7 linked regions of the Homo sapiens genome follow. The protein of the gene in region 3 purifies or fractionates together with the protein of the main gene of each other region. This does not show direct contact. Each region holds a gene or a part of one and is shown on either strand. Other genes may lie near its edges.

Region 1 (3,979 bases), on a different chromosome or scaffold from region 3:
ATTCTGATTTGGCTGGAGGACGTACAGTCCAGTCTGAAGGGAAGAATTTGGGCCAGACGGCCCCTCCAGACCATTCCTTGGAATGCTAAGATCTGCTGGTGCCACCACTTTTGAACAAGTACCTTAGATTCTTTGTCTGATAATAAGGAACAACTTTCCAACTTTTAGGGTAATAAAATACTGCACTGGGTAGGCAAAATAGAGTGTCATCTTCACCTGAGAAATCTTAAGGAGCCAACAGACCGCCATTTGGCTAAACAGGGATCTCCCTCGAAGCAGAGCTTGGCACCGAGGATCCCTCATGCTCAGCGTTCTGTGAAAAGTCTAATCAGCAAACAACAACCCGCTGCTACCCTCATTCTCTAATCACAGCGAAACCTCAGCCAGGGCCACTGCGGATGTCACGTACGCTGCTGGTAGGTTTGGCTTATGCGCCGGATCTCCTCAGGGGTCCGGGAGGCCAGGATCTCAATTAGGCAGCCCTCATCAGTGCCGGCTCCCTAAACAAGAAACCAGAGGACAGGGCTATATGAGCCAGTTTACAAAGCTGAGGCCCAGACACAGAAGGAATACATCTGTCATGAATCTGCAGAGAATAAAGACAATCCACTGCGTTCTAACAACAGGGTTTGTTCACTTTTATTGTCCCACCCGAAACCCAAAGTGTTTGCCGTAACAATTATGAGTAATAACAAACATTTCTAGGCTGTTTATTATGTGTTCGTTACTGTGCCCGGGTAGGTATGGTTTCTGCCCTCTGGGGACTTAATTTTTCCTTGACCTCTTCTGCTCTCTTCCTCTGAAGGGCAGAATTTTCTGGCAAAGACTTTGTCACCTCTTTGCTTTCCCAGAGCCTGGCCCAGAACCTTCCACAAGTCTGAGTATTTATTGACATGGTTGAGGAGGATAATTGTACTCCTCGACTTATGATGAGGAGTACAATACACTGAAAATTTTTAAGTAGAACCATCCTAAGGTGGGGACCATTTATATTTGCATTACATACTTGGTCATTAAAATTTGGCAGACCAGGCTAGGGCACAGTGGGTACGTCATCTAGGGAAGCCAGGAACTCTTTTGCCAGAAGTAAGCCTATAGTAGACCTGGAGGCCCCTAAAGTGTCAGTCATAAAGTTACATATCTCAAAAGTAGTTAGCTGTCTAGAGATAGCTAAAAGTCTCTAGAGCTGTACTAAAAGCGACAATTATAATCACTCCCCATTGAGCCACAGGAAGGAGCAAATGATTCCCTAACTTTTTGGAAAAGAACTTTTAAATTATAATTGGTATAATGTAAAGTAATGATGTTTTCAAGTTGTCGTAAATGAAGGAAAATCTCCTATACTTTACACCTGCTACTCTCAGAAGGCCTTGGTCATAGTTTCTTTCTTTTTTAAAAAAATTTAACTTTTACTTTAAGTGCAGGGGTACATGTGCAGGTTTGTTATATAGATAAACTTGTGTCATGGGGGTTTGTTGTACAGATTATTTCATTACCCAGGTATTAAGCCTAGTACCCATTAGTTATTTTTCCTGATCCTCTCCCTCCTCCCACCCTCCATCCTCCAACAGGCCCCAGTGTGTGTTGTTCCCCTCTATGTGTCCATGTGTTTTCATCATTTAGCTCCCACTTGTAAGTGAAAACATATGGTATTTGATTTTCTGTTCCTGCCTTAGTTTGCTAAGGACAATGACCTCCAGCTCCATCCATGTTCCTCCAGAGGACATGATCTTGTTCCTTTTTACAGCTATTCCATGGTGTACATGTACCACATTTTCTTTATCCAGTCTACCATTGATGGGCGTTTAGGTTGCTTCCATGTCTTTCTTATTGGGTGACAGTTTCTTAAGAAAGCACATCAGCGTTTGCACCAACAGCACCAAGAGCACGAGAGGAAGAGCACAGACCTTCATGGCCCTTCGCAGCTCTTGCACGTCATACAGCACCGTGGGCGTCATCATCCCCACAATCACCTGCTCGAAGTTGCCACTCAGTTCTGACTTCAGGTCGTCTATCAAGTCCTGCAATGCAAGAAAGTAGCTCCGCTTAACTGCTATAGCAAATTAGACCAGCTACTCTCCAGGTGTGGTCCAGGGATGTCTGGGGTCTCCAAGACCCTTTCAAGGGGCCTGCAAGTCAAAACTATCCTCAGAATAACACTCAGATGTTATTTGCCTTTTCACTGTCATTCTTCCACAAGCATACAGTGGGGTTTTCCTAAGGCTATTTGACATTGTCTGTGCATCAACAACTGTCTGTTCAAATACTCCCCCCATTTTCAAGTACATATCTGTACAAGCCAGATTTTCTTCATATACCCCAACCAAAACCACATATCATAACAAATTGAAGTAGAAATAGATATGAGAAGCCATCTGTCTTCCATTAAGCCAGACATTAAAGAGATCTGCAAAATGTAAAACAATGCCAATCTTCTCACTAAATGTTTTTTCGTTTTGGGATATATAGCTATTTTTCATTAAAATGTTATTTACAGTAACATACAATATACTTATTATTTTTACTAAGTTAACAAATATCTATTTTTAAATGCCCTCAGTTTTAGTTTCTAATAGGGCAAATATCAAAAGATATAACCCACAAAACCAAAAGTCCTAAAAAATTTAAGAGGTAAAGGAACTTTGAGGTGAATATGTTTGTAGACACCGATGTAAATGTATTTGCCTACTTAACAATATGTCTTGAATATACTTCCAAGTCAATATTCACTGATAACCTTTTTAGCAGCTGTGGAGATTTCTATAGATAGGTGCAACATAATTTCTTTTTTTTTTTTTTTTAGATGGAGTCTTGCTCTGTTGCCTAGGCTGGAGCGCAGTGGCACGATCTTGACTCACTGCAGACTCCGCCTCCTGGATTCAAGCGATTCTCCTGCCTCAGTCTCCCAAGTAGCTGGGATTACAGGTGCCCACCACCATGCCCAGCTAATTTTTTTGTATTTTTAGTAGAGACGGGGTTTCACCATGTTGGTCAGGCTGGTCTCGAACTCCTGACCTCAAGTGATCCACTCGCCTCGGCCTCCCAAAGTGCTAGGATTACAGGTGTGAGCCACCACACCCAGCCTAATTTCTTTAACTAGTCACCTGTTTCTATTTTTCTACTGTTATATACATAAGGCATTTAGTTGTATCTTTGTGATCATTCATGACTATTTCTTAAGGCTCAATTCCTGAGATATAGTTTCCAAATATAATTATTTGGAAAATGGACCAAATTCTAAAGATGTTTATTCACATTTCCTCCTGGAATGGGTCAGAGAGTTTAAGAACTTGTTTAAGATCAATTGACGAAGAAGGAGCTGAATCGCTATTCTTTTTTTTTTTTTTTTTTTTTTTTTTGAGATGGAGTCTGTCTCTGTTGCCCAGGCTGGAGTGAAGTGGCATGATCTTGGCTCACTGCAACCTCCACCTCCTGGTTCAAGCAATTCTCCTGCCTCAACCTACAAAGTAGCTAGGATTACAGGTGCTCAGCACCATGCCCGGCTAATTTTTGTATTTTTTAAGGAGAGATGGGGTTTCACCATGTTGGCCAGGTTGGTCTCAAACTCCTGGCCTCAAGTGATCCACCCACCTCGGTCTCCCAAAGTGCTGGGATTACAGGTGTGACCCACCACACCTGGCCTCAAGAACATCTTTAAACAAGACAAAGGATCGATCTTTTAAAACACAAGGTCACTTCGGGAACCTAGATCAGGAAGAGGCCCTGCTTCCTGTTGCTGCGAAGTCAGCCAGACAGAGCAGGAAAGACTGTGGCCTACCCTGCCGATGGTGCTCTTGTAGGCTGTCCTGATCTCCTGGCGCTGGGCGGTGTTGCGGTAGGCAAGGACGCTAATAATGGCGTCTTCATCGGTGCCTGGGGGAAGAAGGGAGACAGCAGGTAAGTGTGATTTGAGAGAGGAATGAGAAAGCAGGTTCCTCTGTGGACATTGGAGTTACCCAAACACATGCAGAGGGCTTTC
Region 2 (3,979 bases), on a different chromosome or scaffold from region 3:
AGTTCGAGACCAGTCTGGCCAACATAGTGAAACCCCATCTCTACTAAAAATACAAAAAATTAGCCGGGTGTGTTGGTGTGCACCTGTAATCTTAGCTACTCAGGAGGCTGAGGCAGGAGAATAGTGTGAACCTGGGAGAGGGAGGTTGCAATGAGCTAAGATTGTGCCATTGCACTCCAGCCTGGGTGACAGTGTGAGACTCCTTCTCAAAAACAAACAAACAAACAAAAAAACATAAAATCTTCCGGGCACTGTGGCTCATACCTGTAATCCCAGCACTTTGGGAGGCTGAGGCAAGTGGATCATTTGAGGTCAGGAGTTTGAGACCAGCCTGGCCAACGTGGTGAAACCCTGTCTCTACTAAAAAACTACAAAAATTAGCTGGGCATGGTGGCGGGTGCGTGTAGTCCTGGCTACTCGCGAGGCTGAGGCAGGAGAATCGCTTGAACCTGGGAGGCGGAGGTTGCAGTGAGCCAAGATCAAGCCACTGCACTCAGCCTGGGCAACAGAGCAAGACTCGGTCTCAAAACAAAACAAAACAGAAAGTCAGCTGGTTGCAGTGGCTCATGCCGGTAATCTCAGCACTGTGGGAGACTGAGGTAGGAAGATCGCTTGAGCCCAGGAGTTCAAAGCCAGCCGGGGCAACATAGCAAGACCCCCGTCTCTATAAGAAAAGTTTAAAAGATAAAATTAGCTGGCCGGGCGCGGTGGCTCACGCCTGTAATCCCAGCACTTTGGGAGGCCGAGGCGGGCAGATCACGAGGTCAGGAGATCGAGACCATCCTGGCTAACACAGTGAAACCCTGTCTCTACTAAAATACAAAAAATTAGCCAGGCGTGGTGGCGGGTGCCTGTAGTCCCAGCTACTTGGGAGCCTGAGGCAGGAGAATGGTGTTGAACCTTGGAGGTGGAGCTTGCAGTGAGCTGAGATCGCACCACTGCACTCCGGCCTGGGTAACATAGCGGGACTCCGTCTCAAAAAAAAAAATTAATTAAATTAAATTTAAAAAAAAATCACCACAGCAAACAACCACCCTCAATTAAAAGGTCTCCTGCTGGGCTGATGTAGTCTCTGGGACATGGGGCCTCTCTAGTAGGGAATCTGTGGGACTCTAAACCATGGAATAGCTTGAACAAGGTTAACTCTGTAGAACAATAGTTTGAACTTATTAACATGTTTTCTTTGCCCACTTTTTTTGTGAAAGAAAGGGCAAAGTTACATCTTCAGTGCTGGGTTCAGCTTCCTGTTTGCCCATGTAGGGTGCAAGGGCTATGAAGGGCTGTTTGTGCTGCCTATTTTCTTGCTCAAGTGATCCTCAGTAAGATAGAGGAGACTCTTGAGGAAGTTAAGAAAAGGAGTTAAGGACAGCCCTGGTAACAAGTTGAGGTGTTCCTCGTTTGCTTTAGGAACATACTGGCTTGGTCTATGCTCTCTGAATTTACCTTTGGATTGATTCTTTTAAAAGTAATCTTTTCTGTCTGGGTGCAGTGGTGCATACCTGTAATCCCAGCACTTTGGGAGGCTGAAAATGGAGGATCACTTGAGCCCAGGATCACTCGAGGCCAGCCTGGGCAACAGAGCAAGACCCCATCTCTACAAAAAAAAATTTTTTTTTTTTTAATTAGCTGGGCTTGGTGATGTGCGCCTGTAATCCTGGCTACTCAGGAGGCTGAGGTGGAAGTATCACTTGAGCCCAGGAATTGAAGGCTACAGTGAGCTATTAACATGCCACTATACTCCAGCCTGGGGGAAAGAGTGACCTTTCTGAAGGGCCTCTTTTCATTCCTCCTCTCCGTCCCAACAGAAATAGGGGAACTAAATTTTAAAAATTCTAAAAATCTGGGAGGCCGAGGTAGGCGTATCACCAGATGTCAGGAGTTTGAGACCAGCCTGGACAACATGATGAAACTCTGTCTCTACTGAAAATACAAAAATTAGCCAAGCATGGTGGCGTGTGCCTATAATCCCAGCTACTCAGGAGGCTGAGGCATGAGAATCACTTGAACACGGGAGCCAGAGATCACGCCACTGCACTTCAGCCTGGGCGACAGAATGAGACTCCATCTCAAAAAAAAAAAAAAAAAAAAAAATTCTAAAAAGCCTTCAGCCCTATAGAACTCTCACCCCAGGCAGGTAGCAATTTTTTGCACAGAGAGCAGTGCAGTAGTTACTAGAAAAGGTGCCTCTGGTCTTTTGACAAAAGGACAGGTGCAGCCTTGCTCCAGGATTAGTTTATTTCTGTGTGTAATCTTCTAAGTCTGCAAAGCACTTTTATATCCACTGTAATTTAGTTATCATGGGACTATTCTGTGAGGTGTGTGGTGAGTATTAGAGCCATTTTATAGAGCAGGAAACTTAGGCTTAATTTGATTATCTCAATTTGTTTTCAAAATCTAGTACAGAAAAATTAATTTCCTTGCCTCAGGCCGTATTCCTAGTTAGTAACCTGATTGGTCATCTTATTTCAAAGTTGGTGTATGGCCTGGCATGGTGGCTTACGCCTGTAATCCCAGTGCTTTGAGAGGCCGAGGCAGGCAGATCACCTGAGGTCAGGAGTTTGAGACCAGCGTGGCCAACATGGTGAAACCCCGTCTCTACTAAAAATACAAAAAAAATTAGCCAAGCATGGTGGTGCATGCCTGTAATCCCAGCTACTCAGGAGGCTAAGGCAGGAGAATCACTTGAATCCAGAAGGCTGAGGTTGCGGTGAGCTGAGATTGTGCCATTGCACTCCAGTCTGGGCAACAAGAGTGAAACTGTCTCAAAAAAAATAAAGAAAAGGAAAAAGAAAACTCACAAAGTTGGTGTGGAACTTTTATTGCAACTTAACAATCTTCTCACAGATGTATTTTTTATTTGAGGAAAAAAGAAACTACCTGTACACACAGAAAAGCATAAACTAGCTAAACTATTTTCTCTCTCTCTCTTTTTTTTTTTTTTTTTTTTTTTTTTTTTTTGACAGAGTCTTGCTCATTTGCCCAGGCTGGAGTGCAGTGGCACAATCTTGGCTCACTGCAACCTCTGCCTCCAAGGTTTAAGCCATTCTCCCACCTCAGTCTCCTGAGTAGCTGGGATTACAGCTGCCTGCCCATACCACGCCTGGCTAATTTTTGTATTTTTAGTAGAGAAGGGTTTCACCATGTTGGCCAGGCTGGTCTTGAACTCCTGACCTCAGGTGATCCACCGCCTCAGCTTCCCAAAGTGCTGGGATTACAGGCATGAGCCACCGCGCCCAGCCAAACTAATTATTTTCTTTTGACACTCTTAGAAACTTTGCAAGTTTCCATTTCTGCTAATGAGTAGTCTTCTGTCAGCTTCTTTGTAGATAATCTTTGTGCTTTTTCCAGGAGGGTCAGAAGTACCGTTATGAAAGGCTGCCCTCTGCCTGTGGTCTTTCCCAGATTAGAGAGGTTGAAGTGCTGTCGAAAGACCAGGTGCAGGAGAGATCTTACCAGCAGTGTTAAGTAATTGCTCAGTTTCCTCATTTGTTTTCCTTGGGGTCACTCAAAAATATTGATAACCGCCCTGCTCTGGAGCCCAGATGATGGGAAAGAGTCTGTCTTCAAGGAATGCTAGTGAAGCTATGGATGAAAAAAAGCAGTTAAACCTCCTGCTGTCTCCATAGTGGTAACTCCTTCCAAACTGTTTGGGGACTTTTACAGCTTTCTTATGTCAAACTGCCCTAAGAGACTGAGATGAAGAGAGAGAGGTTGAGTCACTGTAATTCCTTCTTGTTAATATAAAAGAGGGAGGGGTAACAGTTACATAAGGTTCTCTTTTTTGCTTTGCAGAATGCATCTTGTCTTGTTCTTGCAGCCCGGCATGCCAGTGCTTCCTCCACGGTAAGGTTTGGAAAAGAAGACTAAGAATAAGAATCATTGCGGCCAGCCTGACCTTGGGGCAGAGGATTTGGCAACCACCTGGCCTCTTATTATCCTGAGTATTTCCTGGAAGTGTTTGTTACTATTGTTATTGTTA
Region 3 (3,979 bases):
CAGTCGGAAGCACTAGCTCTCTTTGCACCATCTGTAAAATCATTTCCACGATACATTTTTTACATGTTACCAGTTCTAATAGTGATATAATTTCAAATTGAGAGACATTGTCATGGAATAAGACTTCAGCTTTAAAAAAATGTCTCTCCATCTCTACTTCCTTTTTTTTTTCTCCAGGCAGAGTCTCACTCTGTTGCCCAGGCTGGAGTGCAGTGGCATGATCTTGGGTCACTGCAACCTCCACCTCCTGGGTTCAAGAGATTCTCCTGCCTCAGCCTCCTGAGTAGCTGGGATTACAGGCGCCTGCCACCACGCCTGGCTAAATTTTTGTATTTTTAGTAGAGATGGGGTGTCACCATGTTGGCTAGGCTGGTTTCAAACTCCTGACCTCAAGTAATCTGCCCGCCTCATCCTCCCAAAGTGCTAGGATTACGGACATGAGCCACCATGCCCAGCCTCCACCTCAACTTCTAAGACATATTTAAGGCTAATATTTTTTCCTTTAAAACTGAACTTTGAGCTGTATTGGCTGGACATGCTCTGAGGGTCCTTCCAGAGCTAACATCTGTGGCTGCAGAATGGAAAGACCCTTTCCTTTCATGCTTGCTCACATGTGTGCACTTGCTCACAATAATCTAAATGATGGGAAACTATTGTTCATGCCAACATTTTTGAAAATGGGAAAAATAAGTAACAGATATTCAGATGTAATTCTTCTTCTAGACATTTTTTTAAAAGCCAGACTAGTATGAAAATTTATGCAAATTTGAATATAAAAAAGAAAAACAACATCTTTAAATTTTTTCTCTTTCATTCTGTGGAAATAATTTATTTTAAAACTTCATGATATTTATCTGTCCATTTAAAACTGTGTTAATAGCTTATAAAACAATGGGTATGGTATGGCTGGAGCCAGCTTCTGCAGGCCCTCTGCCATGCCAGGCCAGGTGCCACGCCTCCAGGTGCAAGACCATGGGGTGGTCCAAGGGTCCCAGGGGAGAGGCCTGGGCAATGAAGAAGTGGTGGCACCGGTGGAGGCGCTCAGGACAGCTGCTGTTTACCGACCAGTAAAGGTACATTTCACTGTTTGAACAACTGGTACGATGGTACGAGCGTGAACCACCTGAAGACCAGCTCTACACTCTGCAACTCAGTGTTAGAACAAAGAATGCTTTACAGAAAGGAAAGTTGGAAAATACTTACCAAGCTAGTAATTTCACTATGCAAGTCTTGATAGGCCATGGAATGTTTCTCTTCTGGGTCAAATGTTTCTGATACTGTCACTGAAATCTTCCCAGGGAATACCTTTCCTGAAAGTTAAGCAGAATCTTTCTGTACTATTTGATGAAAAGAGGGTCATTTCCATTTTGTTTTAAAACATAGATTATTTTTTAGAATTCCCAACATTATATAACGACACTACAGGAAATCTGGAAATATTTTAAAAGTTACCCATCATCCTGCCCAACCTAGCACAACCATTTTAATTTTGGTATATTTCTTTCCATTTACAGTTTACATTGTTGTAATTCCAAGTTTATGCCATATTTTTTTTCTTCTTATTATATAATAGGTATTTTCCAAATCGTTGCCTAGTCTTTTTTTTTTTTTTTTTTTTTGAGAGAGAGAGACAGATAGGGTCTTGCTCTATCACCCAGGCTGGAGTGCAGTGGCACAACTGGGTCACTGCAGGCTTGAACTCCTGGGCTCAAGTGATCCTCCTGCCTTGGCCTCCCAAAGTGCTGGGATTACAGGTGTGAGCTCCTATGCCTGGTCTCATAACCATCATTTTTAAAGGTTGCATAATATTCTGTGAAGTACATGTCCCCTTCCTTGATGTAATCATTTTTTGTTATTGGACTTAGTGCTTTTAATTATTTAAAAGGAAAAGAAAAAGTTGCAATGAACATCTTCACACACAAACTGTTCTTCTGTATTTGGGGTCACTTACTTAGAGTAAATCCCCAGGAGTGAGATTATTAGTGCTAAAAATATGAGCATTTGGGGGCCTTTTGGTATATCCCTAACCCCAGTGGGCAATGCAATGCATTCATTTCTTATAGAATTGGCTGCTCTGGAAAATGAAGATATTTCTCATTCATAAAACAGAAAAAAAAAAAAAACAGAACTCAGACAGTCAGCCCTCAGACCTTCACTGCACCCTGGTGATCTAATCAAAACATCATTATGCCACAAGTGTATAAATGTACTCCTGAAATCCATTTTTAGAGCTGAAGGGCTCTTATGTCTCTAAGAGGGGGATCTGATGTTATGGAGCAAACAAATCTTGTGACACAGAACTGAAGATCAGGCTCCCAGGGTTGCTGGACTGTGTGGTCTTTGATAGATCACCTTGTTCTGCCTCAGTGTCCCTAGGTAACAGCACTTTTCTCTACTTTGCTGGCCTTTGTTGCCTCTGCATTTTCTTTATCTCTCATATTTTGGAATCTCCTTTTGCCATCATTTTGAGTTTTCGATTCCACTTTTGGTGTGAGATACAGAGCTCAGCCATGGCTCATCCCTTGTAACTCACCTTTCTTACATGTAGAAGAGTTGTAGTAATACCCTTCTAAACACAGGCAAAAACTTGTATTATGCAGCTTAACACATAACGAATTATCTGCACAGGGATCATCTTGGCAAGGATTGCTGGGACCTTAGATGGAGTAGAAAGAGATTAGAAATCCAGAGAAATGACAATAAATAACAACTGGAAACGTATTTTTCCATCTTCATGCCTCCCCCCTGGGCCCTTTCCATTCCTTGCTTGTGTTACTCCACAGCACACTTTTGGAAGAGTTAAAAACAAATATTTGCTTGCTTAGGTCTCTAGAGAGTTTGTTTCTGAAATTCTAGAGCCAAGTATAATACTTGTCAATAGTAAAGATCAGAGATTAGTGTACAAGGGCTTGCCCAAAGAAAGAGAGATTGCAGTCTTCTGACTCCAAGGAGTCAGGAATCTTCAGATCTCAAAGTCCCTCCAGAACCTTGAAGCATGGTCCTCTAACACTAGGTGGGGCTCCCCAAAACATTCTAGATAAAACATCTTATTTTTAGAAAGGTATGAATAATTGTCATATAGGAAGAAACAGCCAAGAAGCTCCAAAAGAAACTAGATGTCACATTCTGTTAGGCATACCTAGGAGACATAGCCATAAAAACAGGAATGGGATAGTAAAGGAGAGAAATGTGGATTAACTCAGTGAAAATTCTAAGAGGCCATGAGAAGACATTCCAGCCTCTGGCTTTCTAAGTGGATCATCTGAATAAATGGTGAAAATAACACTGCAATGGGTTCTACACTGTGGGCTGAGACTCCCAGGCCAGGCAGGGTGTAGCATCTTTCTTTCTCTGGGGAACTGATGAGATCTGAGGAGGAGAGTTAGCTCAGTGGTCCAGTGGTGATCTGGGCTATGAGTTTTCTTCACTTCTGTCAAGTGGAATGATTCTGAGCTGTGATGTCAGAATAGCTTATGTGTTTGATAACCTTCAGAGCTGTCTTGAGAGTCTTACAAACCTATATGTAGAAACCACTGATTTCTTTAAAAGCTGTATGTAAGGTACAATGTGTATAACATGCTCTCTTTTGTGAATAAAAGAAGGGAAGGATTATACACAAGCAAATATTTGCTTATATTTGCATAGGTAATTTCAGGAGGGAGATACAAGGAATTGGGCACAGAAGTTGCCTCTGGGGAAGGAAACTGGGGGTCTGGGTCCTGGGGGTTTAGGATGAGAGGGAGATTTATTTTTTATTGTACATGATTTTGCCCTGTTTGAGCTGTTTTTTCCATAATTATAGGCCTAATTTACTTTTATTAAAAAATAAAAAGTAAAATAATGCTGGTGAGAATATGGGGCAATGGGAACTCTCATTCATTGGTGGGAATGCAAAATGACACAGCCACTTTGAGAGGAAAGTTTGGTGGTTTCTTACAAAAATAAACATACTCTTACGAGAAGATCTGAGAGTCACCCT
Region 4 (2,885 bases), on a different chromosome or scaffold from region 3:
CCATCTGGGACGCTGGGGAACCTGATTAACCCCTCTGTTTTCTCATCTATCAATGGCCACAACAGTGGCACCTTCACTAGCTTGTTGGGAAGAATAAATGAGATAGCTCGTGAAGTACCTAGAAGGGGAGGAGGCAGGGGGCGTGCACTTACCCCAGCGCCCAGCAAGCAGCCAGCAAGTGTGAGTCACTACAAGAGTGGCCAGGCTGCCTGCTGCAGACACTAGCTTTGTACCAGGAGCTTGCTGTGTGCCCCTCCTCACCCCCCCCATCCTGTCTCTTTGCAGTTATGAATACTACGTCGATGACCCTCCCCGCATAGTCCTGGACAAGCTGGAACGCAGGGGCTTCCGTGTGCTGAGCATGACGGGGGTGGGCCAGACGCTGGTGTGGTGTCTGCACAAGGAGTGACCTTCTCATGCTGATTTGCAGACGGGGCACCCCTGTGGAGGGGCTGCTGTGGGCCCTGACCTCCAAGCTCCTGCCTCACCGTCTGCCTTGCTCCTCTCTTCCCAAATCATCACCGCCATGGGCCCAGCCCCAAAGGGCAGTGAATGGCCTTCTCTGAAACCCTGCGTCAAGCAGTGGGAGAGGGCAGTGCCCGGTGCCCTGGTGCTCCCAGCTGCCCTCCTGCTTCGGGCCTGGGCCGAGGGCCTTGTGTAGGCCATGTTCCTCGGGCAGCTGCCCCGGGCCGGAGCTGGGCACTCCAGCGGCCCTGGCGCGTGGCTCCTGCATAGCTAGCCCAAGCCAATAAAGGGCTGTGATGAGTGGCTGCGCCTGTGCTCTGCTTGTGCACGGACTCTGGGACTCTCACCCTGCGGAGCGTTTCCCTGGGGGTCTGCCCACTTCCTGGGAGGGGCGCCAGGCCTGGGTGGAGCGCTCTGCGGCAGAGCCCAGCACCTTATACCTATGTATGGGATAGAGGTAAAATCTTAAAAAAAAAAAAAATTTATTGGTGACGTTGAAGAAAAGGGCTGAGGGGTGGATGGCTGGAGCTGGGGCTACGTAGGCGGCCCCTCCTGGTCTTCCTGCTGCATCCGTGCGATCAGCTGTTGCCGCTCGGCCGCCTGGCGCATGCGCATCATGACGAGGCTCTCGTAGTCCCTCTCTGACAGCACTGAGCCCTGTCGGACAGGGCAGGGACAGGGAGGGGTCAGGGACAGCAGGGCACAGCCTCACAGACTCCGAGTACGGTGCCGAGGCAGTGCTGCGTTCTAAGAGTCTCGGAGGGAGGACGGCAGAGGAAGGGAAGGAACCCGGAGCATCCTTTTGGAATCCTGGCTCGCCTGTGTCCCCCAGAACACGCCACCTTTGGCCTCCAGGCCGGCTTCTACCCAGCCAGCTCCCCCTCCCTTTCCCCAGGCCGCGTCAGCTCCGGTCCATCTGTTTCTCAGGAATCACCTGCGGGCCCTCTAAGCCAGGCCCTCGTCTCCCTTCATTTCCTCTGGGCCCTTTACCCTTCACCCCTTTCCCTCTACCCCGTAGCTTCTGCCTCTTAGGTTCCCAAGGAAGGGAAGTTGTCTGAGGAGCAGGGATGCACTTGGCTCTGCTGGGCACTGACCCTGGCACTCTCTATGCCCGGTGCCCTGTGGTCTGGCTCTTGCTGAGGATGCAGAAGGGAGCCCTACCCGAGGCAGCCCGGAATGCCCCACCCTCGAAGGGGAAAAAGGCAAGCATGAGGCCAGCGTGCCTCTAAAACTACACACCAGGGCTCCTGGAGGGCAGGGCCCATAATCAAAAGAATAATAAACAACCATCTGAATGGGCCAAGGCTGTAGGGTGGAGAAGCAGCTCTACAGCGGGACCTAAGCTGCCAACCCACGCCCTGATAAGGTCTGCGGTGGGAATTAAACCTTTTCCTCCCTCGGTGCCGCTTAGGCTGTGTGATGATCATGTGGTCCCAACAGCTTCTCAGAGAAGTGTGAAGCACACCTGAGTTGGCACAGAAGTGAGCTAGGCCAGGGATTGCAAGATGCGGTGGCCTGCCCGTAGCAGAGAGCTGTGGGGCCCTGATCCGCGGTACCCCGCATGGGGACGCTGTCACAGAGCAAGGCAGGAGGAAAATGTGGTGGTCAGTGACCCGGGGAATAGGAAGGGAGCAGCTAGGGTTGAGATGCCAGGCCCTGGCCAGCAGGTTTGGAGTAAGGGGTGTAGAGAAACAGGAAGTGTTACTCAGCCTGGGTTCCCCTGTTCCTCCCGATGGCTGCACCCCTCCCCTCTCCCCGGCTGCAGCAGTCCCAGCTAGGCCGGACTGCTAAGCCTGGCCCAGAGCACGGCTGACAATTCACGGCAGCCTCCCTGGCCCAGCCTCCTGCAAGAGAAGGAGGACCCCAGAGGAAGCCCGGTAGCCAGAGGGGAAGGGCTGGAGCACAGCCAGGTAGGAGGCAACACGGCCCGGCCTTCAGCAGCCGCTCTCCTGGCAGGAGCCCTCTAGGGTAAAACAAGGGAGGACAAGGAAATAGCAGCCAGGCTGATGGCAGGCCAAGAGGAGGCCACATCTCCCATCCCCAGGTTAATGCTGCTCTGCCAAGAAAACTTGGAGCCACCCTTGGCGGGCCCCCAGCCCAACCCTGGGCAGCAGAGCCCGCCCATCACAGGCATGGCGCTGCTCCCCATTAACACACCCTCTGCCCCCCTTCCTGTTCCTGCTCGTGAGGGCCTGACAGCGGGGCTGAGTCACCCATACCAGCTACAGGTCTCTTCCTTCCCCAACAATCGTTCCACACGCCTGCCTTTCAATTAACTCCCACCCGCCCCGAACTCTTCCTACCCAGACACTGTGGGCAGGGAGCCAGGCGCACCTGCTGGGGGCCCAGGGTGGTGGGGCTGTGATCAGAAAGGAAGCCGCGTGGTGACACATAAAGCAGGGCTGCCCCCACACGAGTCC
Region 5 (4,418 bases), on a different chromosome or scaffold from region 3:
TCTGTCTGTGCATCCCCCAGGTGGGCCTGGGACCCTGGGAATGGGGTGGCCCTCTTGGCAGGTTTCCCACTGCCCCTCCTCACTCCCACATGGCCCCGCCTGGCCTGCTCTCCTCACTTGTTCTTGAAGTCCTCCACAAGGTCCTGCACGTTCCTGAGCTCTGAGTCCAGCCTCCCCCGCTCGCTCTGAAGTCTGTCCAGCGTGCTCCGCATGCTACCCAGGTAGGCCTCAAAGAGGGGCTCCAGGTTGTTCCTGGTGACACCCAAGTTCTGGCCCTGCTCCTGCAGCAGTGCCCACTTGGTCTCCAGCACCTTATTCTGTTGCTCCAGGAACCGCACCTGAGCCAGAGCAGAAAGGGTGGGCTGATGTCACCCTCCGGTCACCAGAGGAGCCAAGGATGGGGTCCATTGCCACCTCCCCTCCAAGGCCAGGGCAACATAGGGACGCTGCAGCCGCACCTACACTTTGCTGTGGGGAGGCACTCCTTAGGGGAATAGACTGCTGGAAACGACCGTCCAATCTGATGGAAAGAACTCTACCAAGTTAATAAGCACAAAAGCCCAGCTCAGTAGCAGTACCAATTTACTAGTTGGTAACCTTGGTCGAATCATTTCTCTCTGAGTCTCCCTCTCTCACTTGTCCTGCATAAACTGGACTAGATCTATGTTTCTGACCCCTAATTCTGCATTAAAATCATCTGTTTAAAATGTAAATCAACTGTTTAAAATCACACACTTTGGGAGCCTGAAGCTGGAGGAGTGCTTGAGCTCAGGAGTTCAAGACCAGCCTAGGCAACATAGCAAGACTGTCTCCACTAAAAATCAAGACAATTAGCCAGGTGTAGTGGCATGCACCAGTAGTCCCAGCTACTCAGGAGGCTGAAGTGGGAGGATCACTTGAGCCCAAGAGATGGAGGCTGCAGTGAGCTATGACTGTACCACTGCACTCCAGTCTGGGAAACAGAGCAAGACCCTGTCTCAAAAAATAATAATAATAAATTAAGAAAATTGGTGAACTGGGTGAAAGAGTATACAGGAGTATGTTGTACTATTCTTGCAACTTTTCTGTAAATTCAACATTTTTTCCCAAAAAAAACTTTTTTTAAAGTACCAATGTCTGAGCCCTTCCTCTATAGACTCAGAAGGAGGCTTACGGTGTGGGTTTAACAGGACCCCCGAGAGTTCTTGGCCCAGCTGGGGTTCCAAGACAATCTCTCAGACCTCCAGCTCCCAAGCTGTGATTCTGCAATCCTGAGAAAGGTTTTGGCTTGTTTGGCCTCTGGGACAGTCCCACAGGAAAACCAAAAGTCACTAGGGGAGAGGGTGAGGAGGCAGGCAAGACGGCTTGCTTCATATTCTGTCATCCAATATCTCCAGGTCCCATCTCCACACTACCTGGGCCTCAGTCACATGCCCTGGGAGCATCATGCAGCAGGTGTGCCTATTGTGAGCAGTAACAACTCTTAGTGCCAAGAACCACAGAGTCCAGGGGCCTGGGTCCCAGTCCCGCCTCTGCCTCCAACTCCTTGTATCATCCTGGGCAAATCACTTGAGCTCTCTAGACCTCAATTTTCTCATCTCAAAAATGGGCACAATATCACCATTTCTGAGTCTTCATAGAAGCACTGTGGGTACCTCAGGAGAAAAGGGATGTGCATGTTCTTCGGAAACACACAAATCACTGAACCAAGGTACATTTGTCTGCCAGACCTTCCCCATCATGACCCGCTGCCTTGGCTCAGGATCGAGGTGGACAATGCCAGCGAAACAGACCAGGAAATCCCAGCACAAGTGTTGCTCCCATCCATCTGGAGGCAAGGGCAAGGTTCAGGGCATGCCTATGGGCAACAGGTCAAATTCCACATTCCCAGAGCTTGGTGACCTGGTGACCACCCTCCTCATTGTCCACCCCAAATTGAGCTTCTTCACTCAGAGTGTAAAAAAAGGAGAAGCGGAAGGGAGCCTACCCCTAGGACCCCACCCACACACAACTGTGTTTTGATCACATCTTGCCCTTAAGCCTCCTCCAAGCCTGAAAGAATGGAACAAACAGGGCTCCATGCTCTTAGCCTTGAACAACTCTTTCAACTCCTGAGCATTGTTTCCCCAGCTGTAAAATGACAAAAGGCAATGCAGGCCACCCCACTAAGAGGAGCTATGAGGACAATCCATTTTTTGATGATGAGGTAAGGCTACTGTGCAATCAATCGTATTAATCATGGTGGTAGGACAGGCTTCAACACGGGCAAGGTGGACTTGGCAAACCGGACTCATGAGTAGACTGGAGACTCCCCCCGCACAGGCACGGTGAAGACCTGAAGGCCGCCTCCAGCCACCCACGTCTCGGCATCCCAGGCTCAGACCGGGAGAGCTCCAGAGCTCTATCAACCACCACCCTAGTACAAGTGGGCTACAGCAGCCCTGGCCCAGCCCACCCTCTATTAGAGGTCCCGCTTCTTCCCCAAGAGCTCCCTTCCTCCTTCCTGCTTGGCCCACCTTGTCGATGAAGGAGGCGAACTTGTTGTTGAGGGTCTTGATCTGCTCCCGCTCCTGAGTGCGCACTCGCTGGATCTCGGGGTCAATCTCCACATGGAGGGGGGTCAGCAGGCTCTGGTTGACAGTGACCTCCTGGATCCCCCCAGGAGGACAAGCAGGCCCAAACGTCTGCCTGCCAGCCCCCTGTCCCATAAATGCCCTGCTGCCAAAGCCAAAGCCCCCCAGAGCCCGCCCCAACAAGGCCCCTCCGGCCACACTGACAGAGATACTCTTGTGGCCCCCCAAGTTATAGAGGCTTCGGCTGCCAAAGCCACCTGTGCCGGGGCCACAGTGGGCCCCGCCACCACTGCCACTGCTCCGAGACACCGTCACTGAGCTGAAGCTGGTGCGGGCCTGGGACCCACTCCCTCCGCTGGCAGAGTTGGAGCTGAAGCCCCCTTTTGTGGAGTATGTTTGCCGAGAGACGGAGGACCTCATAGCTGCAGAGGGGCCGGAGGGCAGGATGAGAGGGCAGGAAGGGAGTGCCGTGAGCTGCTGGGCCACTGTGGGCTTTTTATCTTTTCCCAACTGGGCCGGCTCCCCAGCTCCACAGACACTCCTGCCCCATCGCCCCAAGGGGAGAGGGAGGGGTCCTTAGGGCCACGGGGAGTGCCCTCTCCCCAAGCAGGAGGGAGGGGCCCTCCCGGTTATCACCTGTGCTCCAGAGCTGGGGCTGAGCCGAGACTGTCTGGGGCAGGATGCCACCTTCTCCCCCTGCCCCCAGGCTCTCCTCGGTTGGCACAGGATGATACGGGCTCCCATGGCCACCCCCACCACCCAGTGGCTGGCTTGCTGTCCTCCCACCCAGCCCCAGAGGCCACTGTCAATAGGGCTCTGTTCTACGGGGTTTGTCCCAGGCCCCTGTTGTAAGCCAAGGCTGCAGGGCCTGGGGCTGTACAGGTGGTAGGAGAAGGAGCATTGGGCAATGGGCTGCCAGAGAGAGCATCCAGGCCTGCTCCCATCCCACCCCCAGCCAACGGCCCACCACTCCTCCCAGGTCCAGGGTGTGTGACACAGGTGACAGGGCGAGAGTGGGGATAGCCTGTGCCTCTGCCGTACAGTGGCAGAGCCTTCTGGGAAGTGAGCCTATGCTGGCAAAGTGAATTCAAGGACAGAAAGAGGATCCCTGCCCAATCGTGGGGCCCAGGCCCTTGATCAGGAGGTAGAAAAGGCCTGGGGTCCTCAGGCAGGGCCCAGAAGCCTGGGAGCAAAGGACATTCTTATGGAGGCTGAAGAGAGGGCAGGGGATTTAACCAATACCTGAGATCCCTGAGCCTCTACCCCACAGCAGAGTCCCCACAGAAAGGTTCAGCCACTTTGGAGGGAGCTGGAGGTGGGTCAAGGACACAGACCACCCTGGGTGGAGACAGGCACAGCTCCAAAAAGCAGGTGTTCCAAAAAAGCCCCAGGAGGCCCACGCAGCAGCCCCGTCACTCCCATCTTCCCCTGCCCCACATGCAGGAGCCCATGTTTCTGATTCAGAGGGGCCAGGGGAGCTCCTTAAATCACCTCATATGGTCCCCGCCGCCCACTTCCTATTCACCTCAGTCTGCTGGGACCAAACACAGCCCCAAGCAAAGACAGAGACGTCAACTGTCAGGGCCGAGGGGTGACTGAGGAGGTGACTTTAGACACTGGCCCTCCCCACCCCCTTCTCTCAGCAAGAAGATGGGCTCAAAGTGAACAGAGACTTGCCTGAAAAAAAGGAGCGAGGACAGCATCGCTGTGCTCCCCACCCCCATCAGATGAGCAGGACAACCAGCCAGGCTGTGTCCCCAGGATCCCAACAGAGAGGACATGGGACTGCCACGGAGAAGGCTTGGCCTCCCTCCCATGTTCCCCACAGCCCAGCAAGTGAAGAGACAGCCTGCTCCAGGACCAGAG
Region 6 (4,432 bases), on a different chromosome or scaffold from region 3:
AAGTGGTTTCTACTGTTGATTTTTCTCTCCATTAAAACAAAACAAAAGCACAAATATAAGGAAAGGGTATATAAATATGGTCTACTGATTATGCTGGCTGTATTGTTTTGAACTCCAAATCAGGGTAAAGGGTCTAGAAGGAATTGTTGTCTTTGATTTGTGGATTAGCATACAACAAACCTTATAGAGGTATAGCATTAAGCTACATTGAGCTGTAGACCTGGTTCACATTTTACAAAAGGAACAGAATGACATGGAAGCAGGACGGAGCTGTAAGGTGTCTCAGGCAGAGGTGAAGATGACAGTCATACAAGTGAATCCTATTGATGCCGATTTCCCGTAACTTCCATCTGACAACAGGCCACTCAGCTAAACTCAAAAAGAATATGTTTTCAGAAAAGGAGATTTGGGGGAATTTTATTTTTCATAAGAGAGATAATAAAAACCGGTGTTTTAAAAATCAGAAAACTTTGAAGAGAATCCCTGCTACTGGAAGAAATTTTATAAGGAAAGAAAGAGGCCCTCTAAATTAGAAGGGACTTCTATCCTCTGAGATCTGTGTGGGGACCCTGGAGGGGCTCTCAGCTCTCCAGAATCACACAGCATGACCCTAGAGAATGAAATGTTAACATGTGAGGACAAATGAAGGGGCTTTGACAAAGTCATCCTGAAAGTTGGACCACCCTGGGAAATGGCACTGCCGGGGCTAGGGCTCAGATGGACCAACTCTGGTGTGTGCCCCATTATCGAGAAGCACCATGAGTCAATTTTGGAAAATAGCAGACCACTGCTGGCTCCCATGCTCCACCGTCTGCTCTCCTGCCAGGCCACCCACCTGCCGGGCCACTCGCCCACTCTGGGCCTCAGTCCTGCACTTCAGTTTATCCCGCTCCTTCCCTCGGCAGGCACTCTTGGTGGCCTCACTCTCGGCCGCCTCTCCAGTCCAGTCTCCCTGAGGACTGTGCCAGGGCACTGGTTGGCCACCCTCAGCCACACAAGCTGCCTGGGTCCACAACTGCTATGGGGAGGTCTCTGCAGAGATGGGCCAGGAGCCAGGACAGAGCAGGCAGCAGCACAGTCCCCCAACGGGTGAGGAGCCAGCAGCCGGTGTCAGGCAGTTGGGGCCTTTATCGCCTGGGAGACCACTCAAGATCCCAGCACTCCAGGCCGATCCACCAGCTTCCCTCAGCCTCATTCCTGCACTGGTTCCCTTTAACTGGCAAAGGTTGCGCACCCACCAAGACAACAGGCAACCATTGCTCTGTGAATTGTCTAAGGTCTCCATAAGGGCTACATCTACACTTTAAAAGTGTCCTAAAAATCATAGAGAAAGAGGTAAACTTTTTGTATGTGGTCAGATTGCTGATAGGACTCAAAAACATAAAAAGTAAAAGGACCATAATACATTTACTGTCTGGTTTCTATATACAGTATTTTGAAATCCTGTACAACCAAAAGAAAACAAACAACCTCCCCACTTAACCATCAGTAGCAGCAGCCAAGCACCTGGGGTTAGGGTCTTACAAAATTCGGGTACCATTTTCACTCTTCCCAGAATTCGTGTTGGAATTTTCACTCTGAAGCTGATATTACAAATAAAACTACATTAAGAATAATTTCCAGCGTTTAGTTTACAGCGACGTGTCTTTGTTGATTACAGAGCCTTCTGAAAACAGTTAATTTAAATGTCTTGTGATCAGAGGCTCAGCCGACATTGGGAATTAAGTGCCAAGAGACCCAAATCTGAAGGCCACACATAGTGCCCTGCAACTTTCTCCGCTTGATTAAAATTCTTTGAGAAAGATAATTGCTACTTCTTAAAGTAAAACGGATGAGGAAATTCTCTAAGTGCGGTGTCAGCTGGAGTTGGGGGCTATGGGTAAAAGCAAAAATCAAGAGAAGCCAAAGGTGGGGAAAGTTAAGGCAATGGCTCTCGGCCTGGCCTGTGCCTCTAAAGTGCCCCAGCACCGGCCCACGACAGACGCGCACGCCAGACAGCCTGGGGGTGTCCTCCATCGGGTCGCGCTCCCGGACCCGGGTCTCTCGGCCCTCCTCAGCCCCAGCTCAGAGGCCTCGGAGGCCTCACCATCTTCTTTTATTCCTTTCTGCCCCGGGCAGGTAATCTCGCCGTTCTGCCAACGCTGTAGCCTCCCAGCCCACAGAGCGAGGAGGCAGAGAACCGTGCGCTTCTGCGGCCTCGCGACCCACCGCTTCCCAAAGGCCCAGGTCTGCGACCTTCCGGAGCGCGCGCCTTGTGTGTAAACACCGGGACCTCTGGGCTCCGGGGAGGTTTCGTCAGTAAGCGAGCACCTTCCTACTCCTCCTCGTTCTGCTGCTGAGCCGGGTATAAACTAAGCACGGAAGGCGCCCGCTGCGCTTTGCTCGGAGGACCCGCTTCCCCAGTCTTCCAACTGCAGCTCCGCCATCTGCCTCCCGGACTCTCTCTTGGCGCTCTCGGACCCTCCGACCCTCTCAAAGCCAGACTCGTCCACCCTGGAAATCATCGCAGGGGTTTTTGGGGAGGGAGCTCCCCAAAACCAGCGCGCTCCGAGTCAACGCGGCGCGCACCTCCACTCGCGATCAAAGCGGGCAGCGCAGGGACACGTCGGGGCCTCGCAGGGATGCGGGCGGCCCGGCCCCGCGCGGGCGCTGGACGGCCTCGGTTTCCCGGCTTCGAGGCTCACAGCGCCGAGCCCCGCCGCCTGCGATCCCGCCCGAGACGTCCCGCGAAAGGTGCGGTTTCTGGAGAGCCGCGCCCGGGCAGGGAGGCTCGGGTCTCGGCGGCGCCCGGCGGACCCCCGGCCCGCTGCTCCCTCGCCCCCGCCGCCCCGAGTCTGGCTGCCCAGCGCAGGGGCCCGCGGCCGTCGGGTGGGAGGGGCGCCCGCCTCACCTTGGTGAACTTGACCTCCAGGTTGCGGATGGGGCGCGGCAGGGCCGGCGGCTTCCTGTCCGGCTGCCCGTTTTCCACGGCCCCGTTAGCGGTGGCCATGGCTCCTCCGCGCTCCCTGGCCCGAGGCGCCCTAGTCTGCGGCGCACCGGCTCGGCCCGGACACTGCGCAGCCCGCTCCCGGGGTGGCAGCTCCCCGCCGCTTTATGCAGCGCCCCACGCCTCCCGCCCGAGGGGGCCGCCTAATTGGCTGCGGGACCGGAGGAAGGGAGGGCGGGCTGCGGGAGGGAGGAGAGGGGAGGGCGGCCGGCCCGCCTCACCCCGCCCCGCCCGCCGCCCCTGCGGGAGCCCGAGCGCCGGCGGCTCCACCCGCGTGCCGCGGACCGTCCCGGCGCCCGCGCCGCGCGCTCTCTCGCCCCGGAGGCTGCCTGTGGACGAGCTCCCCGAGGAGCCGCCGGGCCCCGGAAGTCGCAGGGCTGGGACACCCGACCCGGCAGGGAGCTGAGCCGCGGGGCCACGGCGCCCCGCTGCCTCCCCGAAGTCGGGCGGGCTCCCCGCGCGGCACATGCAGCCCACTCCCAGCCGCCGCACGGCGCGCTCGCCCGACTTCGGCCGGCTCGCGGCGCTCGGGAATGCGCGCTCTCCGCCGGGCCCTGCGCCGCGCCCGGGTCGGGGCTCCTGGCGGGGCCGCCCCGCGTCGCTGCGCACGTGCCCTGCTCTTGGGTCCAGCCGCCCGATCCCCGCTAGCAGGACAGACGCCCGCTGCGCCCCACCCTGCCCGAGCGCGGACAGCCGGCGGGCGCACCCCGGCCCAGCCGGCCTGGAGTCTCCCCGGGGCCCTGGGGCTTCGCCCGCGGTGGGGCAGAAGGCGAAAGCAAAGCGCCGGACCCGGGCGGCTCTCCGCCGAGGAGCCCTGGCGCCGCTGGGCCTCTGACCTTCGCAGGCGCACACCGCCTTCCATCCCAGAGCCCGGGGGGCAATTGATCTGATTTTTTAAATGCATAAATTATACCTCGATTAAAAAATGATAATTAAAAAAAAGCACATGAGACCTTTGCTGCTAATCGTTTTAAGAGTTTAAATTCTTGTCGCGCATTACTTCCCAGGAGGGGGAGGTAAGTCTAGCTCCTCTCCTTTTGCGATTTGGGAAACGCTCCATCAACTCCCAGGACTTGACCCAGGCCCCATCTGAGACACGGAAGCGGCTTCTGATGCATGCCATTCCTCAGGTCGCTGGAACAAAGACCGGAGGCACGGACTCCTGACAAAAGCTGTGCTTTAATCCTCAGATAGGCTCAGCCCCTTCAGTTCATCTCTTTCTGTAGGTAACCCCAAGTAATCAACAATGGGGAGGGGTCTCCTTATTTTCCTGTTTTGAGGCCTCCGTGTCCATCTCTCTGTCCCCTGGTGTCCTTCTGGATAGAGCTGGATAGAGGGGTAAGTTTTGAAGCTTTTGGAAACCCCACATCTGACCCTTACCCTGGGGTTGTGGAAAGGTCTTGTGCTGTTATGGCCTGGAGTGCACAGCTGAGGCCGGGGAAAGGG
Region 7 (3,979 bases), on a different chromosome or scaffold from region 3:
CTTTAATTGGTTTACTGATTCAAATGCTACCCTCCTCCAGAGACATCCTCACAGACACACCCAGAAATCATGTTTTACCAGTTATCTGGGCATCCCTTAGTCCAGACGAGTTGATACATAAAATTAACCATCACACATGGGATAGAATTAGGATTACACAGTCAACCTTTATGGGAGAAAATTTCAGAGGCATGTCAGGGGTTTATGTAATGTCAAGGAGTGAGGACATTGGCTACTTGAGCATAGAAATGAGAACTGTGGGGTGACTCTTCGGTGGAAAGTTTCAAGGTAGTAGTTTGTATCTAAGCCAAATACTCAGCTTGAAGCAAAATCTCTATAAATTTTCATCTGATTTGATCTCATCTCCGTGTTTCCAAGCATTTGTAATGAATTGAGCATTTAGAAGAGAACAAATTTCTGTTTAAGTTTCTTTAGATTTTAGATGGAAAGAATGTAGAAATAAGAGTAGAATGTAGAAATAGGTATAAGGAATATAATAGCTAACCATTACTAAGTGTTCCAGAATTATCCAGGGAAGAGAAAAGAATTCAAGGCAAGTCCTGAGACAAAATTAAGAACCAATTGGAAGTGAAAGCGCTACATTTTTTTTTCTGGTATGACCTTTCTTTTCTGTATGTTCCAAATCTCCTCACTATGAAATTAGTGAAAAATTAAAGTTAAAAATTAGAGAAAATTCACATTAAGTTCTCCTAGGACTCAGTAGTATAAGGGTATAGACTGAGAGTAGAATGTAGTGTGAGAACAAGGAGATACAGTATTTAACCATTACTAATTCTCTTATACTTGTCTAGTAATCCTATTTCCTTTTAAAAGTCTTCAGTTATTTTCTCTTTACGCACCTCCTTCTCCCTCTTGTCTTCCTCCTTCTACCCCCATCTTCTTTCTTCCTGTGGAGCCTTCATGAATGGGATTAGTGCTTGTATAAAAGTGACCTGGAAGACCTTCCTTGCCCCTTCCACCATGTGAGGACACAGTGAGAAAACAGTGGTCCATGGAACCGGAAAGTGGGTCCTCACTAGACAGTAAATCTCCTAGCACTTCGATCTAGGACTTCCAGTGTCTGGAACTGCAAGAAATCAATGCTTATTTTTTAAGTAAGCCAATAGTATTTTTGTCATAGCAGCCCAGTTGGACTAGGACAATTATCAAGAGCAAGAAGGGAAGCAGCAAGCTACAAGAGAGTTCCGTCCTTGGTGTAAATTGACCGTGTAATCCTTGTCAAGTTTGAGCCTTACTGGAGCTTTACTTTCTTATTCTTAAAATGCAGATATCTTGCCTGCATCCTGGACAGAGCTTTTAACAAGGTCATATGTTGCAGAATATGAAAGTTCATGTTAAAAAACCCTTTAAAATGTGGTATCCCATTTACTAGCTGGTGAACTTCTTGAGGAACCTCTGTGCCCATGGGTATGAAGTGTATGCTGAATGATCACCCAATGTTAGAGGAGTGGGTGGACTGGTAACCTGATTTAAGGGCCATTCTAACTCTTACATTCTATGATTTTTTTAATTCTGTCTTTAAGTTTTTACATTTACAATCACAGAAAAAATAGTCACATAGAAGAATAGTAGCTTAGCAAATGTTTATTGCATTGAGTGGAATCAGGATTTCACTCCATTAAGTAATTCCTCTGTTAACAAAGAGGGTTCATTTCATTTTTATTTCATTAATATTGCTTTTTTTTTTTTTTTCTGGAGACAGAATCTTGCTCTATCACCAAGGCTGGAGTGCAGTGGTGCGATCTCGGCTCACTGCAGCCTCTGCTTCCTGGATTCAAGCGATTCTTGTGCCTCAGCCTCCCAAGCAGCTGAGATTACAGGCACATGCCACCACACCTGGTTAACTTTTGTATTTTCTAGTAGAGATGGGATTTTGCCATTTTGGTCAGGCTGGTCTTGAATTCCTGGCCTCTAGTGATCTGCCTGCCTCTGCCTCTGAAAGTGCTAAGATTACAGGCATGAGCTACCATGGCCAGCCCATTTCCTTAATATTTTAATTGTCAGACATGTTATGGTTTCTGGCACAATATTAAGAAGACATGATATGAAATCACAGGGTGAATTTTAGGGCATCACAACAGAAAGATTATGGTATAAGAAAAACAATGGAATTCCAACTACATTTCTGTCAAATGTTCTAAAATATATAAAATCTGTATCTTTTGTGTTCTCTCCTGATTTATATTCTAAATTTGATGTTATCCTTCTCTGCAGAAATAAAGTGTCTGAAAGAATGAAAAAAATGGAAGAATTCTTTAGTAAGGTATAAAATACCCTTTCTATCTTTGTAGCATTCTAAGCCTTTTGTCACCTTTCCAAACTCCCAACATGCCATATTCCCTGACTAGGCCACAGCCATGTACATTGATCCCTTTATTTTCTTCTCTCTGCCTGAGATTTCTCTCATTCCCCCTTCTCTGCCTGGTATATGATTGCCCATTGTTTAAGGCCCCAACTCACCTTTATAATCTTCCTAGCCCACTTTCTTTATCGGTATTCCAGAAAAAACAAAAGAAGCTTCCACAAGACAACATTCTGTAATACACTGCTTAACTTCTTTTGACCCTGCTGAGTTCAAAAATCTTATCTTTTTAAGGATTGAATGGAGTCCACCAAGGTATCTATATTTGACAGGATTTATGAAAACAAAAGGATTTGTTGAGAAAGTTTGAAGCCTAACTCTGAAACGTGGATCATAGTGTTTACTACACATTAACTGTTTTAGTGGATGTAATAGTTATTATTATAGGCTGTGGAATCAGAACAGGGTTCAAATGTTTTCACCGCTTGCTAGACTGTGGCCTTGGGCATGTTATTTAATGCCTGGAGGCCTCAAATGTTAACTAGGAATGGTAAGACCTACCCAGTAACTTAGCATAAATAGTAAATTCATTCATTTAATGTTTTCAAACAGTGCCAGACATTGTTTAATGAACTGGGGATATAGTGGTGAACAACACTGACAGCGTTCTTCATTGTATTCTCAAAACCCTCCCTATAGTAAGTAGGTCTGTGTGTGTGTGTAGGTGCATGGGGAATAAAAAATAATAAGCAAATAATGAACAGGGTAATTTCAAAAAGCAGAAAGAGCTATTCAACAAAACTACCTGCCTTTTATTAGATGAAACTCTCAACTCTATGGTTTGTTCTCTCCTGTCAATTCTGTTAAATGCTGTCAGCCTGTTTTCCTTATCACCCTGGCCACGACTTCTGTCTTTTCTGCTTGGTCCTGTAGACTCTAACCCAAGGCTCATTCTCTGCCTGGCTATCTGCCTTCTGTGGCTCTTTGCCACTACCTACATTTTCTGTGTTGCACAGGGAAGGACCATTCCCTGTGGACCATAAAATTCTCTTTTTGAAAGAATTCATTCTTGATTGGGCCACAGCACATCTTGTGAAACAGCATTAGACATTTGCCACTGCTCAGCAGCTCTGGGGGAAAATGTTTACTGAGAAGCGTACAGTAGTTTTTTTGACTAACCATGGTGCAACCTCCTCCCAGAGGGAAACCTATGAGTATTTCAAGGACATGTGATGGTCTGTTTTTGTCCCCAGTATCTGACATGATGGGTAGTGTAGAGCAAGAGCTTACAGATAATGGCTAAATTAAATTTTCTTTTTGAATTTTAATATTCAACTTTTTAGGGTACCCAATCTCCATATTTAGGAAAATAAATTACATAAAAAGTGGAGAGTTTTTATTGTGAAACTGCACCTCCATATTCCCAGTGGTGCAGGATGAGGGAGCACAGGTGTTGGTCTGGGGAAGCCAGGGCCCTCTGTGGTTCTGGAGGGTGAGGATTAAGAGGAAGCCTTAGATAGTATTTATGAGTATCTGCTGACTTCTCTCTGGGACCCAAGATCACTGAACTTTTGCCTATTTTGAGATCATCTTTCCAATCCAGCCACTAACAGCTGAAGGATAGGCTTGCCCTGGAGCCATTGTAGTGGTTGGATG

What was found.
Region 1: the proteins of MUC13 (region 3) and ANXA4 purify together in Homo sapiens (affinity purification with mass spectrometry, with the first as the bait; one study listed by BioGRID). This does not show direct contact.
Region 2: the proteins of MUC13 (region 3) and CS purify together in Homo sapiens (affinity purification with mass spectrometry, with the first as the bait; one study listed by BioGRID). This does not show direct contact.
Region 4: the proteins of MUC13 (region 3) and DNAJC17 purify together in Homo sapiens (affinity purification with mass spectrometry, with the first as the bait; one study listed by BioGRID). This does not show direct contact.
Region 5: the proteins of MUC13 (region 3) and KRT79 purify together in Homo sapiens (affinity purification with mass spectrometry, with the first as the bait; one study listed by BioGRID). This does not show direct contact.
Region 6: the proteins of MUC13 (region 3) and ALDH1A3 purify together in Homo sapiens (affinity purification with mass spectrometry, with the first as the bait; one study listed by BioGRID). This does not show direct contact.
Region 7: the proteins of MUC13 (region 3) and SLC25A24 purify together in Homo sapiens (affinity purification with mass spectrometry, with the first as the bait; one study listed by BioGRID). This does not show direct contact.

What each region holds. Positions count from the first base shown.
Region 1 is NC_000002.12:69,804,427-69,808,405, reverse strand, and holds part of ANXA4 (annexin A4), read right to left. Parts: intron 3,874-3,979; coding exon 3,779-3,873; intron 2,022-3,778; coding exon 1,908-2,021; intron 501-1,907; coding exon 410-500; intron 1-409. UniProt on the Homo sapiens protein: Calcium/phospholipid-binding protein which promotes membrane fusion and is involved in exocytosis.
Region 2 is NC_000012.12:56,286,459-56,290,437, reverse strand, and holds part of CS (citrate synthase, mitochondrial precursor), read left to right. Parts: intron 1-3,792; coding exon 3,793-3,843; intron 3,844-3,979. UniProt on the Homo sapiens protein: Key enzyme of the Krebs tricarboxylic acid cycle which catalyzes the synthesis of citrate from acetyl coenzyme A and oxaloacetate.
Region 3 is NC_000003.12:124,920,994-124,924,972, forward strand, and holds part of MUC13 (mucin-13 precursor), read right to left. Parts: intron 2,657-3,979; coding exon 2,534-2,656; intron 1,311-2,533; coding exon 1,204-1,310; intron 1-1,203. UniProt on the Homo sapiens protein: Epithelial and hemopoietic transmembrane mucin that may play a role in cell signaling.
Region 4 is NC_000015.10:40,766,941-40,769,825, forward strand, and holds part of DNAJC17 (dnaJ homolog subfamily C member 17), read right to left. Parts: intron 1,123-2,885; coding exon 1,000-1,122; 3' UTR 410-999; coding exon of another isoform or gene 286-409; 3' UTR 1-285. Other genes in the region: GCHFR (GTP cyclohydrolase 1 feedback regulatory protein), read left to right, coding at 286-409. UniProt on the Homo sapiens protein: May negatively affect PAX8-induced thyroglobulin/TG transcription.
Region 5 is NC_000012.12:52,831,289-52,835,706, forward strand, and holds the start of KRT79 (keratin, type II cytoskeletal 79), read right to left. Parts: upstream 3,024-4,418; 5' UTR 2,973-3,023; coding exon 2,496-2,972; intron 339-2,495; coding exon 118-338; intron 1-117.
Region 6 is NC_000015.10:100,878,465-100,882,896, reverse strand, and holds the start of ALDH1A3 (retinaldehyde dehydrogenase 3), read right to left. Parts: upstream 3,067-4,432; 5' UTR 2,990-3,066; coding exon 2,891-2,989; intron 1-2,890. Other genes in the region: collagen alpha-1(I) chain-like, read left to right, coding at 3,094-3,876. UniProt on the Homo sapiens protein: Catalyzes the NAD-dependent oxidation of aldehyde substrates, such as all-trans-retinal and all-trans-13,14-dihydroretinal, to their corresponding carboxylic acids, all-trans-retinoate and all-trans-13,14-dihydroretinoate, respectively.
Region 7 is NC_000001.11:108,193,737-108,197,715, reverse strand, and holds part of SLC25A24 (mitochondrial adenyl nucleotide antiporter SLC25A24), read left to right. Parts: intron 1-3,979. UniProt on the Homo sapiens protein: Electroneutral antiporter that mediates the transport of adenyl nucleotides through the inner mitochondrial membrane. Originally identified as an ATP-magnesium/inorganic phosphate antiporter, it also acts as a broad specificity adenyl nucleotide antiporter.